2 separate regions of the Homo sapiens genome follow, and region 2 is linked to region 1. The links come from fine-mapping of genetic effects on gene expression. Tissue or cell type: whole blood. Region 1 holds a variant in brackets; the other region holds the start of a gene. All regions are shown on one strand. Distances are from middle to middle. Region 1 overlaps HSF1 (heat shock transcription factor 1). Region 2 holds the start of DGAT1 (diacylglycerol O-acyltransferase 1).

Region 1 (9,337 bases):
GGATTGCTCCCAGATGGGGCAACATAGCTTGGCCAACATGGTGAAACCTTGTCTCTACTAAAAATACAAAAACTAGCTGGGCGTGGTGGCAGGTGCCTGTAATCCCCGCTACTCGGGAGGCTGAGGCGGGAGAATCTCTGGAACCCAGGAGGCAGAGGCTGCAGTGAGCCGAAACTGCACCATTGCACTCCAGCCTGGGCGACACAGCGAGACTCCGTCTCCAAAAAAAAAAATTTTTTTTTGCAACTCAGGAAGACAACCATTTAAAAAAAATTAAAGGCAGGCCGGGCGCCGTGGCTCACGCCTGTAATCCCAGCACTTTGGGAGACCGAGGCAGGCGGATCACAAGGTCAGGAATTCAAAAGCAGCCTGGCCAATATGGTGAAACCCCGTCTCTACTGAAAATACAAAAATTAGCTGGGCGTGATGGCAGGTGCCTGTAGTCCCAGCTACTCAGGAGGCTGAGGTGGGAGAATCGCATGAACCCGGGAGGCAGAGGTTGCAGTGAGCTGAGATCGCGCCATTGCACTCTAGCCTGGGCAGTGGAGCGAGACTCCATCTAAAAAAAAAAGATAATAATAATAATAAATAAAACGCAAGTGGCTGAGCATGGTAGCTGACACCTGTAATCCCAACACTTTGGGAGGCCAGCGCGGGTAGATTGCTTCCACTCAGGAGTTCGAGACCAGCCTGGGCAACATAGGGAGACCCATCTCTACAAAAAAAAATGAGCCTGATGTGGTGGTGTGCTCCTGTGGGCCCAGCTACGCGGGAGGCTGAGGTGGGAGGATCTCTTGATCCCAGGAGGTAGAGGTTGCAGTGAGCCCAGATCGCGCCACTGCACTCCAGCCTGGGTGACAAAGCAGACTCTGTCTCGAAAAAACATACATTGAAAAAGGCAGAAGATTTGAACAGATACATCAAAAAAAAGATAGACAAATAGCAAATAAGCACTTGAACAGGTGCTCAGCATCGTTCGTTGTCAGAGGAATGCACACGAAAACCGCAGCGACAGCGACTAGAACAGCCAGGTGCTGAGGAGGGTGCGGAGCCCCTGGAACTCACCCGTGCTGCTGAGAACACAAATGCTGCATCCGCTTTGGAAAGCAGCTTGGGAGTTGCATGTGAAATTCAGCATTTACCACACGGCCAGCAGTTCTGCTTTGGTTATTCTACTCCAGAGTTTCCACTGGGGGTCCTTTATGATTTCGTCTCTTCTATCATTTTTTTGGTATAGATGGGGGTCTCGCTATTTGGATTATTGTTGCAGGCGTGTTTGGGGTTTTTGAGTAGTGGTAGTGTCTGAGGTCAGTCAGGGTTGTTCTGGCCCCAGCAGGGCTCTTCGTAGCTTTTCCTGTGCAGGTGAACAAGCCTGCGGTTTCACTTGTTTCTCTTAACTTAGAGGAGCTGTTGTTCCCAAGAGCAGTCTTGGGCTGAACTTTCAAATAAAATGAGTTTCCTCAGGGAGCTTCAGAGCTCTTTCCTTATGGACGGCCTCTCTCCCCAGGCTGATTTCTCTGCACCACCCTTCTGGGCACTGGGTAAGACAGCAGCCTCTGATCTTCTTGGCCTGGCTTTCCCAGCATGGGTGCTCTACCCTACTGTTTTAACCTAGAAAGCCTGAACTGTATTTAAAACTTGTGGTTTTTAAGGCCAGGCACAGTGGCTCATGCCTGTAATCCCAGCACCTTGGGAAGCCAAGGTGGGTGGATCACTTATGGTCAGGAGTTCAAGACCAGCCTGACCAACCTGGTGAAAGCCTGTCTCTACTAAAAATATAAAAATAAGCCGGGCGTGGTGGCACATGCCTGTAATACCAGCTACCCAGGAAGCTGAGGCAGGAGAATTGCTTGAACCCAGGAGGCGGAGGTTGCAGTGAGCCAAGATGGCACCACTGCACTCCAGCCTGGGCGACAGCGAGACTCCATATAAAAAATAAAAAAAAAAATTGTGGTTTTGAAAATGCTTTAATTAGGTGGGAGCTGTGGGGAGGGTGATCAGAGACCTGGGTGTCCTCAGCCTGCTGTGGCGGGGGTAGTCTCCTCTCTGAGGCTTGGGCAAGGTGGAGGAAGGGAGCCCCTGGCTTCTTGGCCACGTGCACCAGGATCTTAGTCTCTTCAACTTGGAGTCGGTGAGGATGTGAAACTCTGGTGGTCTGCCCAGCCCATGAGATCCAGGAAACCTTATTTGGGAATTGAGGGGAGAAGGGTCCCCATCTTCCTGCTCCCCTCTCCCTGAGTGTAGTACCCATCATGGTGAGCTGGGGTGAGAGGGAAAGAGGAGGCTGAGGCTCAGATGCCACCAGGCTTAATGTTCGTACCAGGTGTCAGTAGATTTTACTCCGTAAGTGTTCATCTGTTATATGCGTTTAGGACAGTTTTGAGACTTTAAGTGGTTTAAGCTTTGCTTGTTTCACAGGAAGTACTTCCATGAAGTTCCTCACATTGCTGTTCCAGAAGTGGAAATCTCTCCATTTTCAAAGCATAGCTTTGCCGGATATTGAATTTTTATGTTTTGTAGAGATGGGGTCTCGCTATGTTGCCCAGGCTGGTCTCCAACTCCTGGGCTCAAGGGATCCTCCTGCCTTGGCCTCCCAAAGTGCTGGGATTACAGGCATGAGTAACTACACCCGGCCAATATACAAAGATTGAGTGGCAGGGTCTTTTATTTTAATGCTTTTATTTTATTTGTTTTGGTTTGTTTTTGTTTCTGTTTTTTTGGAGATGGAGTCTCGCTCTGTCACCCAGGCTAGAGGGCAGTGGCACGATCTGTGCTCACTACAACTTCTACCTCCCGGGTTCAAGCAGTTCTTCTGCCTCAGCCTCCCAAGTAGCTGGGATTACAGGCATGAGCCACGACACTAAAATTTTTCCATTTTTAGTAGAGGCGGGGTTTCACCATGCTGGCCAGGCTGGAACTCCTGACCTCAAACGATCCACACACCTCAGCCTCCCAAAGTGTTGGGATTACAGGCATGAGCCACCACACCAGGCATTTTAATCCTTTTTTTTTTTTTTTATTGAGACAGAGTCTCACTCTGTCCCCCAGGCTGGAGTGCAGTGGGGTGATCTCGGCTCACTGCAACCTCTGCCTCCTGGGTTCAAGCGATTCTCCTGCCTCAGCCTCCCGAGTAGCTGGGACTATAGGCGCCCGCCACTGTGCCGGCTAATTTTTATATTTTTAGTAGAGACGGGGTTTCCCCATGTTGGCCAGGCTGGTCTCGAATTCCTAACCTCAGGTGATCCGCCTGGCTCAGCCTCCCAACATGCTGGGATTACAGGTGTGAGCCACCATGCCCGGCTGTGTTACACTTTTTGTGGTGTCTCACAGGTCTCTGAGGCTCTGCTCATTTTTGTTTTTGTTTTTATTTTTTTGAGACAGAGTCTCTTTCTGTCACTAGACTGGAGTGCAGTGGTGCAATCTCGGCTCACTGCAACCTCTGCCTCCAGAGTTCAAGCGATTCTCTTGCCTCAGCCTCCCAAGTAGCTGGGATTACAGGCACATGCCACCATGCCCAACTAATTTTTTTTGTATTTTTAGTAGAGATGGGGTTTGACCATGTTGGCCAGGATGGTCTAGATCTCTTGACCTCGTGATCCAACCACCTTGGCCTCCCAAAGTGCTGAGATTACAGGCGTGAGCCACTGCGCCTGGCCGGCTCCTCCTTCTTATTCCTTCTGTCTTTTTTTCTCCTACTGGAGCACCTCAATTGACTGATCTTCATGTTTGCTGACTCCTTCTTCTCCTAGTCAGGTCTGCTCTTAAGCCCCTCTGGTTAATTTTTTTTTTTTTTTTTTTTTTTTTTTGAGACGGAGTCTCACTCTGTAGCCCAGGCTGGAGTGCAATGGCGCGATCTCGGCTCACTGCAACCTCTGCCTCCCGGGTTCAAACAATTCTCCTGCCTCAGCCTCCTGAGTAGCCGGGATTACAGGCATGAGCCACCAC[A/G]CCTGGCTAATTTTGTATTTTTAGTAGAGACGGGGTTTCTCCATGTTGGTCAGGTTGGTCTCCAACTCCTGACCTCAGGTGATCCGCCTGCCTTGGCCTCCCAAACTGCTGGGATTACAGGCGTGAGCCACCGCGCCCGGCCCCTCTGGTTGACTTTTAATCTGAGTTATTAAACTCTTCAGCTCCATAATTTTGATTTCGGGCTTCTTTACAATTTTTATCTCTTTATTGATACTCTCTGATAAGATGTCATTCTCATACTTTAGTTCTTCAGATGTGGTTTCCTTTAGTTGTTTGAACATATTTGAAATGATTGACTTAAAATCTTTGCCTCGTAAGTCCAGTGTCCAATGTTTTGGCTTCTTTGGGGACAGTTTCTATTGATTGCCTTTTTTTTTTTTTCCCGTGTATGGGGTATGGGTCCTAGCTTCTTGTTTCTTTGCATATCTCTATTTTTTTTTTTAACTAGAGTTTTTTGTTTGTTTGTTTGTTTGTTTGTTTTTGAGTCTGTTACCCAGGCTGGAGCGCAGTAGTTCAATCACAGCTCACTGCAGCCTTCACCTCCGGAGCTCAAGGGATCCTCCCTCCTCAGCCTCCTGAGTAGCTGGGATGATAGGTGTGCGCCACCACGCCCACTTAATTTTTGTATTTCTTCTAGAGACGGGGTTTTGCCATGTTGCCCAGGCCAGTCTCCAACTCCTGAGCTTGAGCAACCCACCCGCCTCGGCTTCCCAAAGTGCTGGGACCGCAGGCGTGAACCAGCGCAGCCGGCTGGAAAACTGGAACTCTCATCGGTTGAGAGTGGCAGCTCTGGAGCTCGGACTCCCCCACCTCCCCAGGATTTGTCATTGCTGCTGTTTGTCGTGGTTATCTGTCAGGTAGCTTTTCGGCACTAATTCTGTAAAGGTTGCGTTCTTTCTTGTTTATGGCCACTGCCGTCTCTGTTCAGTTAACTGAGATAGGTGGTGATGGGGCAGAAATGTTCTTGAATGCCTGGGGCCAGTGAGTCTCCCGTCTTTTCCGGGGGCTGTGTGTGTGTGTGTGTGTGTTGGGGACGCCTTCAGCACTCGGCCAGGCAGTGGACAACCCAACTGTATGCCTGACTTCCTGCTTACACAGAGCCTCAAGGTCAGCCAGAAGTGAGAGCTCGGGGCTGGCTCAGGTCTTTCCTGAGCACGGGCACGGCTCACACGTGTACACGGCTGCGAGATGTCCTGGAATATCTCAGAGCTTTTCAGAGCCCCTAGTGGCACCTCCTTCTCCCCAGCTGCCAGGCACTGCCTCAGGCAGCCACAGCGTTCAAAAATCACCTGTAAAGGTTTCAACAGGCACACCTCGGCAAACAGCTTTTTTATTCAGGAGAGCTTCAAGTCAAATCAGAGACAGCCTTGGGAGTGGACTCTTAGGTCAGATGCTGACAGTCCTCTGGGAATGGGGCCCTGGAGGAGCTCAAGCCCTGGCCCACCCCGCAGCGGCTGCCAGGACGCTGTTCCCACGGGGACTGCAGCTGTTGGTTTTTAAGGCTGCAGATGGAGTGGGAATAGGGCATGTAAAATGCCACAAAGCCTGGCTGGGCACAGAGGCTCACGCCTGTAATCCCAGCACTGCAGGAGGCCAAGGTGGGCGGATTGATTGAGGTCAGGAATTCGAGACCAGTCTGGGCAACATGGTGAAACCCCATCTCTCCTAAAAATACAGAAATGAGCCGGGCGTGGTGGCGCCTATAGTCAGCTACTCGGGAGGCTGAGGCAGGAGAATCACTTGAACTCGGGAGGCTGAGGCACGAGAATCGCTTGAACTGGGAGGCTGAGGCACGAGAATCGCTTGAACTGGGATGCAGAGGCTGCAGTGAGCCATGTTGGTGCTGGTGCACTCCAGCCTGAGCAAGACCTTGTCTCAGAAAAAAAAAAAGTTCACAAAGCCCACTGTTCTTACTAAGATTCAGCTGTTTTTCTTGAATAAATGCTCCCCGTGCTACTGTAATTCTTTGGTTAACTTTCAGAGTTCTGGAAAGTTGGCTTGGCGCTTTTCGCCGTCTCTCTCCTGCTGCCTTGGGGTCCTTTCCGTGACCGTTTCCCTCCCTGACACGTGTACATCCCTGTGTATTTCACATCTCTCTATGCTGGAAAGAGGTTCTCCACTTCTAGTGCCACACCACGGGGGTCTTTCTGGCTTTTTCCCTGTTTGCATCTGCAGCTCCCTTCCCTGGCAGGGAGAAACCTGCCCCACTGCCCTTCACCAGTTTCTTCACTGAGTCAGCCGCCCCTTCCTATGCAGACACCCCTCACCCCTCTCTGGCCCTGCTTCAGGCCCCCCTTCCCCGCCGTGTGGGCTTCTCGCTGTCCCCTAAGCCTTCGATGTCCCCTCTGAGCCACCGCGGCCACGGCCAACAGGGATGCCTCCCTCACCAGCGCCTCCTGATAGCTCTGGGCCTGAGCTCGGTAGAGAAATGGAAGAGGAAGGTATATGCAGTGTTTGACTGTCTCTGTTTCTTGTCTCACGTCACAAAACAAGACTGAATTTGGATTTCTGAACGCGACTGTGTTTTCCTCGGGAGTAATGAAATTAGGGCTCCATTTCCTTCGCTGTTCCCAAGGGAAAGGTCCTGCTTAAACAGGTGCTTTGTGAGTGGAAACGTGGCCAGAGTGCGGCGGGTGCTTTGTGAGTGGAAATGTGGCCAGAGTGCGGCGGATGCTTTGTGAGTGGAAACGTGGCCTTCTCTGGAAGCCCTGGGGAGGGGCTTTCCGACTGAGAGGAAGGCCTCGCATCTGCCCACCGCCCAGTCCTGGGCCTCACAGTGAGGATGCAGGTCACGCTGCACAGATGAGGCCCGTGTGGCAGGTGGTCCCAGGAACGAACTCGCCTCCCGCCAGCCCCCTGGGCCTCCCATGGCCCCAGCCCCATCAGGTGGAACGTGCACTGCCTGCGTTTCAGAAGGGGCGGCCTGGGGAAGGGGCGGCTTGGGCACGCTGCCCCTCACCACCACGCGTGACCCACCCATGTGTCTCCCTTTCAGAGCGGGAACAGCTTCCACGTGTTCGACCAGGGCCAGTTTGCCAAGGAGGTGCTGCCCAAGTACTTCAAGCACAACAACATGGCCAGCTTCGTGCGGCAGCTCAACATGTGTGAGTGCTGCCTCCAGGCAGCGCAGGGGTGCGGGAGGCAGACCTGCAGATGGCGGGACCCCAGCAGGAGGACCCTGTGATGAAGGACGGGGCGTCCTGTGCTGGCCAAGGGCATGGCGTGGGACCCTGCAAGCCTGGGGGCCGGGGAGCAGCCGCCTCTTCCATGGGGGAGGGTCCTTGTGGGTATGAACCTGGGGTCCCCATGGAAGAACCGTGAAGCCGGAGCTGTACTCCACGTGTGTCGGGCGCAGGGAGCCCTGTGGGGACACAGGGTCTCCCTTAGACCAAGGCCACTCGGCCACCCAGGCATGGGCTCTGAGGGGGCAGGGCAGGGTCTGACCATGGCCAAGCCCCGCAGCAGCCTCCTGGAGCAGTGGCCGCTCTTCAGGGGTTCTGGTCCCGCCCTGAGGCAGAGCTGCCCCCTTCCCTGTTATGTGCAGATGGCTTCCGGAAAGTGGTCCACATCGAGCAGGGCGGCCTGGTCAAGCCAGAGAGAGACGACACGGAGTTCCAGCACCCATGCTTCCTGCGTGGCCAGGAGCAGCTCCTTGAGAACATCAAGAGGAAAGTGACCAGTGTGAGTGCCGGCCCTGCACCCTTGCCCGGTCTCACCTGCCACAGCTCTCCCCGCCCGCCCCTCCCTGAGGGCTCCCACCCCAGCCTGCCCCTTCCTGAGGGACCTGGCTGCAGTGGACGAGCCTGAGCCTGCCAAGCTCCTAGGCTGCTCCAGTGACTCCTGTCCCTCTCGGGAATCCAGGTGTCCACCCTGAAGAGTGAAGACATAAAGATCCGCCAGGACAGCGTCACCAAGCTGCTGACGGACGTGCAGCTGATGAAGGGGAAGCAGGAGTGCATGGACTCCAAGCTCCTGGCCATGAAGCAGTAGGTCCCACACCAGCATTATGGGCCACAGCGGGTCCTGGCGCCCACCAAGAGGCCCCGGGTGCTGTGGGGGCAGGGCCCTGACCGGGGCCAGGTGCTCAGCTCCACCCTCCCGCTCCACGCACATCTACCCTGGGCCTCTGCCCCAGCCCCGCCGCCCGTGGCTGCTGCAACAGCTCTGGGGCCAGCCGTTTTCCATGTGCAGAAGGGGGTTGGGAGGGTCCCCTGCTCTGCACATCCCCAGCGCCCTCTGGGCCATTGGCTTCTGCCTGGCTCCGAGCTTGGCGGGACCCACCAGCCTACTTTTGAGGACAAGCCTTGCACAGCAGACCCGTCCCACCCGCCTCGGGCCTGGGGTCAGACCCACCTCAGGCCCTTCCTGGAACCGCTGTCCCACACTCGCCTGGGCCCATGGAGCTAGCCCCCAGCCCCTCCTCACCGGGACCCTGCGGCTCTGGGGAAACCTTAGCAGGAGCCTAACACACGGTGGCACCTGAGAAACTGAGGCAAGCCCACCTCGGAAGGCCAGCTCAGGTCTCACGTCCACTTTGGGGCTCCAGGCATGCGGGAACCCCAATGCCAGTACGGCTTCCTCGGCTCCGTGCAGCAGGCGCTCTTGACCCCCACGTCATGGAGGAGGCCTTGGCCTCAGACTCTCCTGCATGGGGTCTAGCAGGAGCCACCGGCTTTGTGATTCCTGGAGTCCGGCCACGTGGACCTGGCCTACCAAGAAGACTCACAGGCTTGACAGGGCCCAGCCTCCCAGAGCAGCAGGAGCGCGGTCATGGCCCTGCTCACCTGGCTGGGGACAGCTCTTCCCCACCCCTGAGCCACCTCCAGGCCTGGCGAGGGCCCTGAGCACCTACAGGACATGGGACAGCCAGTGTCGCAGCCTGAAGAACCGTCCTCCCTTAACCTGGCTGCTCAGGCCTTGGAAGGGCGGCCCAAGGGTCTGCTCCTGGCCTGTGTCCAAGGCAGCCCTCCAGGTGTTTGCCAGGATGGATGCCAGGATCCGGGTGCACCTGGCTCGCATGGATCCATCCCCAACACCCTACGTGACACCAGGTGTCCCCGGCAGGGAGGGGCAGTGGGACCAGCAAGCCCTGGCCCTGGCCCCCAGTCCCTCCACACACAAGTTCTCATCCTGGGGTGGGCCAGGCCAGACATGGTCACACTTACCCCTGCTCCTGCATGGGGGACAGGGAGGGTCTGTGGGGCTCCCTCAGCCCTGGGGCTCATGGGATTGGGCCCCACTGACCCAGCCTGGTCTGTTGCAGTGAGAATGAGGCTCTGTGGCGGGAGGTGGCCAGCCTTCGGCAGAAGCATGCCCAGCAACAGAAAGTCGTCAACAAGGTGGGGGCAGGGCCAGAGGGCCGGCGGGGGCC
Region 2 (9,337 bases), 20 kb after region 1:
AGGCAGGGAGAGTGGGCCTGAGAGCCATGGCAGGAGCCCCATGAGGCAGACGCCCTCAGGGCACCCAAGGCAAGCTGGCTAGGATTGGGGTCGGCAGTCAGACGGCCCTGCCCAGGAGGCAAAGGGCCAGGGAGGCCGAGAGGCAATGCCAACAAGCCCAACCTTTGCTCCCCAAGACCAAGGTTGGTGCAACACATGCCCCATCTACACCTACACAGTTCCTGGACAAGTCTACACTAGTCCCCAAGACCCCCAGGCAGGGAGGATGCTCACACCTTTCCCTCTGCCCATCTAGACTGGAACACAGGGGCAGGCAGCTCCACCCAGCCCCTGCCTCTCCCAGCTCCAGCCTGAGCGCCCTGCATCCACCCACCAGGTCCATCCTGGGCCATGCAGTGAGGCTGTGGTCTCCACCAGAGCCTCCCTCCTCCCCAAGTTGGCAGCTGTCTTCCCAACTGACCACCGCCCTTGGCTCATCTCCCCAGCCTACTCCACTCACTGCCTGCCCACAACCAGGAGGCTGGGTGTAGACACCGCCAGAGCCCCAGCACCGTGACGGGAGCAGGGGCACGAGGCCCAACTGCCCAGCAGCCTCTCTGGGCTGTCTGTCTGGGGGCCTCTCCACTGCCCCCTCTTCCCCAAGTTCGAGCCCATTTGTTTTCAGCAGAACAATCCCAAGCCTCAGGGTTGGCCTTCTTGTACCACGACCTACCAACCACAGCTGTTTCACAGCAGTATGACCCCTGCCCCCTTTGAGCCACCAAGGACACCATGCTGGCTTTATCCATGCCCATCTCCAAGATGAAAACAGGAGTCGGGAAAGGGTGGTGCTTCCCAAAGCTCACTGCAGACAATCCTACACAAGCTTTCTCAGGGGCCCCTTGACAGGCTTCCAAGGCCTTCCTCAACCCAGCCACAGCCTCACCTCAGGCCCTTCACAGGCCTGACCAGCCCCACCCAGAGGCAGCACCCCCACTGCGCTACCCCTACCCCTCACAGGCCCCCATGAGGAGGAAGCCCCAGTCCACCAGTGCCCACAGAGCTCCAAGCAGTCAGTGCGGCCAGCAGCATGTGGGCTACAGGGCAGGCTGCATGGAACGGCATGGGGAGGTGGGATCTGCCCCTGTGCCTAGAGCACCTTTATCACCCTCTCACTGACTGGAGGATCTGCCCAAGCCTCTGCACCTTCCAGCTGTCCCTACACCCACTCCCTAGTCCAAGAAGACTCGGAGCAGCCTGCCCTCCCTCCTGCAGCCCCCAGGCCCACCCAGCCAGCAGGATCCTCTCAGTCTCACGGCAACACTGAGACCTTGGCACATGCCCACCCGCCACCCTGTCTCCAGGTTCAAAGTGTGCCCAAAGGCACAGGTCCCAGTGAGTCCCACACTTGGGGCCCACACAGTGCAGCTCCAGGGCCAAGCACAATGAGGAGGGGGCAGAGTCCAGCTCTGCTCACTGCCGCCTCCTCCACTCTGGCCTCTGGGCTGGGCCTGGGTTCAAGATGGTTGGGGCAGGCTCCCTGCACCTCGCAGACCCTGCTGGAGAGAGAAAGGGAGAGTCAGAAAGGACACCTCAGGGACAAAACACCCTGGGAGAAGCCAGAAACCGGATGGCCCCGACTGGGGTGCCTGTGAGCAGAGGGCTGGTGGGTGTGTGCAAAGAGCCTGGCAGGAGTGAGCCACAAGCAGAGCAGAAAGGGGTGCCCTCTCCTGCCTGCCTCACAGCCTCACCTTGCCACGGGGCCGGAAGAAAGGAGCTCACACCCAGAGCCCAGCCCTAGGTGAGCAGGAAGTGTCCGTGAGGGGAGGAGGCCCGAGCTCAAGGAGTAATGAGGAAGCGGGAGAGGAAAGGCTGGGCTGGGCCAAGAGCAGCAGGAAGCTGGAGGGAGGGGAGGCTGTGAGGCTGACAAGGGGGTGCGCTAGAGGCCAAGTCCCAGGAGGGCAGGCAGAGCAAGGCCTGACGCAGACAGCAGGGAGAAGAGCCCAGTGTCCACAGCCAGTGGCCGAGCCCTGCTGCATCCCTAGGTCTGAGGGACAAGCACACATAGCCTGCAAGTCCTGGAGACCCAGGAGCAGATAGACTTTTGGTCTCAGCCTCCAGCCCCATGAAGGCCTCACCTCTCCATCTACTGCCCCTCTTCCCAAGGAGACCCGACCTCCACGGCAGGGACAGGGACTCACCAGGCCTCTCCCACGAGCTCTGCACCCATCCCACACCAGCAGAAGTACAGGAAAGCCTTGCTGGTTTGCAAAGCAAGAAGGTGACTGCTCTCCCCTGCCTACCCCCAGGTGGCGGCTTGGCCCAAAGCTGGGACTACCCTCATCTCACACTAAAAAAAATCTCAATTCCCGGCCGGGCGCGGTGGCTCACACCTGTAATCCCAGCACTTTGGGAGGCCAAGGCAGGTGGATCACCTGAGTTCAGGAGTTCGAGACCAGCCTGACCAACATGGAGAAACCCCATCTCTACTAAAAATACAAAATTAGCCGGGTGTGGTGGGCGCCTCTAATCCCAGCTACTCTGGAGGCTGAGGCAGGAGAATCACTTGAACCTGGGAGGCAGAGGTTGCAGTGAGCCAAGAATGTGCCATTTTACTCCAGCCTGGGCAACAAGAGCAAAACTAGTCTCAAAAAAAAAGAAAAGAAAAAAAAAGAAATCTCAATTCCCACGTCCTCCACAGGTCATGTAGCCATCCCCCTGCCTCCTGGAGAGAGGGTAACTCCAGGAGCCACACCTCCTTTTCAGGTAGGAGGTGCCTAGGCCAGCCTCCCTCACCAGCACCCCAGGCCCACAGCAGGCAAGCACCCCTCTCAGGAGGGCCACCCTCCTCCCCACGGCCCCTTCAAGGCCTCCGTGCCCGACCTTTGTCCATGTTGCTCCATGCCTGACTCTCGCTGAGGTTATCTTATCTCCCAGATGAACTGAGCACCCTGAGGGCCACGACAGTGCCTGCCCTCCCCCAACCCCCTCCCCATGGTGCCCCGTGAAGGAAAGCTCTGTTCTTGCTCACTGAGAGAGCAAATCATTGCCAACTACATGTCCAAAATCAGCCCACTTCTGCCTTGATAACCTCTAGGCCCTCAGCTGCTCTCTAAAACAAAGCCCTGAGGGCCCCTGGGCCAGGGTAAAGGCCATAAAGGGGGGATGGAGGGTGGCAAGGGGATTGCTCAAGGCCAGCTTGGTGGAGGAAGCCAATGCCCAGGCTGGCCAAGTCCTTCCCATCGGCCATGGTTCTCTCCCTCCACCCCTCTCTGTCAGTCATCCAGCTGAGCAGGGCACACGCCTGCAGGTGTGTCCACCACCCCCATACCCCACTCCCCACCTGGAGGATGGAAGTCCCAACACAGAACCCAACTCTCTGTCCCTACAACAGACGCTGGCTCTGGCAACATCGGCAGGGCTCCAGGCCAGCCTAACCACTGGAGCAATGAATGGGCCACGCAGCCACTCTCAGAAGGGTCTGCAAGGACAAGAACGCCTCTAACACTGCCCCTTGTCCGGGGCAGCTGCTGATTCCCCTGTCCTCGGACAGGCCTGGGCTCCTCTGGCCCCCTCCCTGGCAGGCCAGCCCTCCTCTGGGAGCCTTTCCTACCCGCAAGGCACCGCTCATAGCACCAAGAAGGAACCTATCACCACAAACTGCCCAGATCTTATCTGACTCCTTCCATATAAGGGGACACTGTCCAGGGCCGGGCCCCCACCAGCCCGCCCCTCGAAAAGCTCCTCAGGAGCCCCTGAGGATGCACAGACCCAAGAGGATCTGGATGCGGGACACCTGCCGGCTCCCCTCTGCCTGGCCAAGGCCAGCTCCAGAGCCCCTACCCAGTGACCTTGTCAGGTGACTCTCCCCAAGCCTCAGTTTCCCCACAGGGCCCATAGGGCACACCGATCCCCGCTTAGCCCAGGGCCCATGTTCTCGGACTCGGAGCTCGCGCTTCGGCCAACCCCGGAAAGTCGCGGGGCCCTTGGGTCAGAGGTTAGGGGGTCAGGCGCTCCGCTACCTCAGCTCCCAGTGGCCGCTGCCCACGCCGGCGTCTCCGTCCTTGTTGGGGGCCGGGGCTGGCGCGTCCCCCGCGGCTCCCACGTCGGGGCCCGCAGCGGCGTCCCGCACCTCCTCTTCCGCCGCCGCAGGCCCGCCGCCGCCGTGGCTCGAGGGCCGCGACCCTGTCCTCCGGCGCCGGGAGCTGCCGCGGTCGCCCATGGCCTCAGCCCGCACCCGGCCGCAGCCAAGCGTGGGCCCGCCGGGTTCGTAGCGCCCGAGGCGCGCGGCCCCACCTCCGGGCCCTAGACAACGGCCGCCACTGCCCCCTGCCGGCCGCCGTAGCCCGGGTGACCGCCTCACCAGCGCGTTCAACCCGCCCGCGTCGGGCCCGTCGGCCTCAAGGACAACGGCTGCGTTGCTCCGGAGCCGCTAACTAATGGACGGCCGCCTCTCTCGTCCATTTGTAGTCCGCGGCCGACCTGAGGCGGGGCCTGGAGAGGCTGACGGGGCGCAGGGCACCCTGGGAGTCGTAGTCGCCGCGGGCGCGCCGGCGCAGAGCACCCTGGGAGTCGTAGTCGCCGCGGCCGCACCGGCGCAGAGCACCCTGGGAGCCGTGGCAGCTCCCAGGGCCGGGGCTGCGGGCCGCAAGTGCGCGCAGCGGGAACGGACCTTGCATCGCTCCCGCGTGGTCCCGGGGTCCTGTCCGGCCCCACGGAGCGGGATGGTCCGCTGAGGGGTGCGCTGGGCCCCGACTTCCTGGCCGCTGTGCGCCCGCCCCTCGTCCCACTTGTGTACACACGGGGTCTCGGCGAGTCACTCCGGGCAATCATTTAGGAAGCGCCTAGTGCGCCACGGTCCAGCTGTCCGGGCCGGTGTCCGCGGCGGCTCGCGTCGCCCGCCACCCAGCGCGTTGGTTTCTGCGCACGCAGCTTACAGTAACGTCCCTGGCGCGCTTCTGCTCCGCGAGCCCTCTGGTTACCCCGGCAGGAACCTGCTTTTCTTCGCCTTAGGGGGACGTCAGACAAGGGCCAGGTCAGAAGACCAAGCTGGAGAAATGCACCAGGCCCTGCGTCACCGGGACGCCTGCCTTGCACGCGACTCCCAGGCTCTCCACCTCCCCGCCTGCAGAGCCCGGCGAGAGGAGGGCGAGGGCGAGGGCGAGGGCGCAGGCCCCTTGGTGGTGTCTTCTCAGCCCACCCACTCTCTCCACAAGGAGCTCCACGTCCCTCAACTCTCAGGGCCTCCCAGTTTCCAACGTGGGCCAGCCTCTCCAGGATGTCAGAAGTCTGGGCCGCTGGATCGCCGGGACTCAAGAGGCTTCTGTGCATTTGCACGGCCTGTGCAACCGCCCTGTTGTTTTTTGTTTTCTTTTTTCTTTTTTTGAGACAGTCTCACTCTGTCGCCAGGCTGGAGTGCAGTAGCGCGATCTCGTCTCACTGCAACCTCCACCTCCTGGGTTCAAGCGATTCTCCTGCCTCAGCCTCCCGAGTAGCCAGGACTACAGGCGCGTGCCACCACGCCCAGCTAATTTTTCTGTTTTTAGTAGAGACGGGCTTTCACCATATTGGCCAGGCTGGTCTCGATCTCCTGACCTCGTGATCCGCCCACCTCGGCCTCCCAAAGTGCTGGGATTATAGGCGCAAGCCACCGCGCCTGGCCTGTTGTTATTTTTTCTAAAGATGGGGGTCTCGCTATTCTGCCCAGGCTGGTCTCGAACTCCTGGCCTCACGCAATCCTCCCACCTCGGCCTCTGAAGGTGCTGGGATTACAGGTATGAGCCACTGCCCCAGACATCTTGTATGTTAAATGAAGCAACTAATCAACTGTAACAGCCACAGTTGCGGCCCACCTTGGCTTGGTGTGCATATTGCACAGGGCATGGAGTGAGAACATCCTGGATCTCAGGATGCCAGGGTTCACTGAGGACTCTGACTCTAGAAACACCTTCATTCCTCTGGGGTGAGCAGGGGCAAGCAGCACTTCTCTGGAAGCAAACAGGTGCTCCTCCTGAGGTGGGGTCCTCTCCCGTGGGCTGGTCACAGCCTCGCCTCTGAGCTCCGTCCTCTTCCACCACCTCCACCAACAGTGGCCAGCAGGGCTGCCCCCTTGGTTGCCCCCCTGGTGACATATTCTTGTCACCACAGGCCGCTGTGGGTTGCTGCCAACCAGGTATCAGGCAGGCTGGAGCTACCTGGCAGATGCCCTTTGTGTAGCCTGCCGAGTGGGGCCGCCCTCACTGGACCCAAGAGCCCCTCACACATGGGCCTTGGTCGGTCAGGACCAGCCCCATCTCCTACCCAGTCTCTCAGAATATTCATTTGTTGAATGCAGTCGCTGGCAGACACACTCTGTGGCCAGGTAGGCCCAGACCTGTCTGAGTATGGACTGACAGCAAGCTCAGAGAGGTCTGGACCTGGCCACGGAGCACCTCATGCTAGGCAGAGGAGATCAACGACTCAACCTGTGGTCGCGTCCCAACTCAAAGCCGGCAAGTGGCCACAGGAGAAAGACAATGGGAGGGTGGACTGGACCACCAGGGAGGATGGGTCGGGCCTGGTGAGCAGAGCCAGGCTTGGAGCCAATGGGGAAAGCACTGGCTGTGGGCGGGCCATTAAGGAAGGGCTTTGCCACCGGGGGTGGGGGCGTGGCGGGGCAGCAGCTCCAGAGGTGGGTGAAGCCCTGCCCAGACAGGCCCTATACCCTGGGATCTAGGGTGAGGGGAATGGTCAGGGTAGGTGAGGTTGGTTGGGGACAAGGGTGTGTATGGCTGGGTCATCGAGGAAAGCATGATGCAGATCACCCTGCTGGGGGCAGCAACAAATGAGGGGGCCCAAGCCCGAAGCGAGTTGCCTTCCAGGGCTAGTGGAATAAAGGGCTGGAAGTGGGTTGGGGCCTCAGGCTGATCCCAGGGCCTAGGGGCCATGGGTGGGCCAAGAAGGCCTGTGAGAAGCAAGGGTCCCAGGAGAGTTCACAGCCAGTGGTGGTCTATGGCCTGTGCTGCTCATTCAGAGGGAAACTTGTGTCTGTGGCTGGGAGGAACTGGGGGGTCGAGCTCATCCCAGGCCTCAGGGAGGCCACCTCCATCCTTCCACCCACTCTACGCATCAGAATCCTGGAGAAGTAGAAACAGCCAGTCGCTGTTGGAGTCCTTTGGAAGGAGTGAGGCTAGGAGCCTTCCTCCTGGCCATTGCTGTCTGCCATTGTCATTGCTGGTAGTGCTCTCCCAAAGAGAGCACCCACCTGCACCACAGCTCCTCCAAGTGCCAGGCACACAGGCCATGACATGCTGCAGACCTGGTTCCCCTGCTCTCCACCCTAGTGGAGTCTGGGCAGGTCTGTCCCCTGTCCCTGCTAGGGTGTGGGCAGCTTTGCTGGCCCTGGATCTAGGACTGACCTGGTTTGAATGTATGTGCCCGAAGACTTTGGGCCTCTCGGCTCATGCCTGCCTACCTGGTTACCAGGGGACATTGCTGGGCAAAGGGTCCCTGTCCCTTATCTCCTCCACTACTCATTCTGTCTAGAGCCCTTGGGCGATGGTTGCAGAAGCCTCTCTGCCCCCTGGGCACCTCCTCCCTGGAACCGGTCCAACCCAGCTATCCATGGAGGCATCCGCAGACACTGGGGGAGCATATCTGGGAAGCCTGGGGGTCAGAATGTGGGCAGCAGGCCACAGGAAAAGGGCCAGACCTCGAACTCTCCACTGTCCCCATTTCCTGCAACAGCATCTCAGAGGGCTTGAGGTGGCTATCAGGCCTTCCATCACAGCATAAAGCTCCTTCAGGGAGAGAAGAGCGAAGGCACCCAGGCTGGGGAACAGCAGCTCCTACTATACCTACCCTGCCCACTCTGGTCCAACCGTGGGCTTGGCCTGACTTTAGACTGGAACCCCTTAGTGCTCCTGTTCCTGGTGTGGAGCAGATCCACCTACCCCAGGGGAAATGCCAACTACTTTGCCTTCAGACCTGATGCTCCTGTGGTTGGGCCTGCCAAGCCTGCCCTCCCCAGTGGAAGAAGAGGGCCGTCTTGTGAAAGGCCTCAGGCTGACCCTTGCAGCACCAGCCTCTGAGGTACTGCCAGACTGGGAAGACCCTCCCAGCCACCCAACAGCGTGGGCCCAGCCCAGGACACATCAGCCCGACACTCCAAATTCTATCAAGAGTGGCATTTATTCTCCTTGTGGAGGTGCGGTGCTCCGGGGAGCTGGTGCTATTGTGCTTAGGAAGGAGGTCTGTCCGTCCGTCCGTCTGTCCGGCCGGCCTGGCCCCAAATGGGGGCGGAAGAGGGGCACGGCCCGAGTAAAAATCCCGGCCTATTCCGGGTGGGAATATGTACAAGGCGGCGGGGCACAGGCGGGGGTGGGGGCGGGCGGGCCGGCGGCCGCAGCCCCCACCCGAGGGCCCCCGCACCTCGGGCCCTACTTGTAGAATCAGTACAAAATAGGTGCTACCTAAACGTTCCTTCTACCTGAATTCGCTAAGTCGGTTATTGTGCTGCTTAGTTATGGGGGCGGGAGGGGGCCCATGGCTTTCCACGGCGGCGGGGTGTAGGGGGAAGCAGGAGACCCTGACGGGCCCACAGCCCTCCAGCTTTCTCCTTAGGTAGGTAGACAGGAGTATGGGGTGGGGTGAGGTGGGGGCGCCTGTGTGTGCGTGTGCATGCGGCACAGGTGGGCAGGCCCCAGCTTGGGAGCTGTGCAGGCACCACACCTGGTTGTGTAGGGTGTTTGGATGTGGGCACTGCTGTGCAGAGCGGTGGGTCATCCTTGTGGGGGCAGCCACGCTTGCTGCTGGGGGTGAGGCTGGCCACACCATAGGCTACAGCTGGCACCTTCTTCTCCAGCCATGGCTCTGCCCCTGGCTGGACATGGCAGATGTGTGTTGGCCAGAGGATCAGAGAAGTGGCCACCTGTGTGGGGGCCCAGGAGCCCTGGATCTGTCCCCCTCAGCTGGAGTCAAAAGGCCTAACTCAAAGGTAGAGCCCAGTTGTGCCCAGCAGGGACTGGTTGAGGTGGGGAGGAGTGTAGGGGGCATGTGAACCTAGGGACCTGGTCTCTCTGCATCTGCCGTTCTTCCCTGGCCCACCCAAGCCGGTTGGACCCCTGTCCTGCAAACACACCTCCCAGCAGGTGGCTGCGCTCCTGGCGGACTCAGCAATTGGCCTGGCACATAGTAGGTGCTCAATGAACGGTCAGTGAATGATTAATGCCTGAAGGAGGGGTCTTGGGGGCAACCACCCCACCCCCGCCCATGGAACCATTACAGCCGCCGGGCTCTGCCGTGGGGGTCGGGGAGGGGTGGGGAGAAAGTCTGCGCGGCCGGCCCCGCGCAGCGTCCCTGATCTAGGGGCCTATGGGGT

What was found. PIP is the estimated chance that this variant, and not a neighbour inherited with it, causes the effect.
Region 2: it holds the start of DGAT1, and the variant in region 1 is fine-mapped to the expression of DGAT1 in whole blood (TOPMed, PIP above 0.99).

The regions. Positions count from the first base shown.
Region 1 is chr8:144,301,945-144,311,281 of GRCh38, forward strand. It overlaps HSF1 (heat shock transcription factor 1), which reads left to right. Exons shown (of 13, transcript NM_005526.4): 2 at 6,962-7,070; 3 at 7,511-7,647; 4 at 7,828-7,952; 5 at 9,230-9,305. Among named protein-coding and RNA genes, the nearest start is that of MIR6848, 11 kb to the right of the region's middle. The variant A/G (reference allele first, on the strand shown) is at 3,946.
Region 2 is chr8:144,322,436-144,331,772 of GRCh38, forward strand. DGAT1 (diacylglycerol O-acyltransferase 1) reads right to left here and starts at 4,417. Exons shown (of 17, transcript NM_012079.6): 1 at 4,002-4,417. The coding sequence starts at 4,201. It overlaps SCRT1 (scratch family transcriptional repressor 1), which reads right to left. Exons shown (of 2, transcript NM_031309.6): 2 at 8,130-9,337. RefSeq lists an enhancer at 1,493-1,552 and silencers at 4,044-4,113, 4,124-4,843.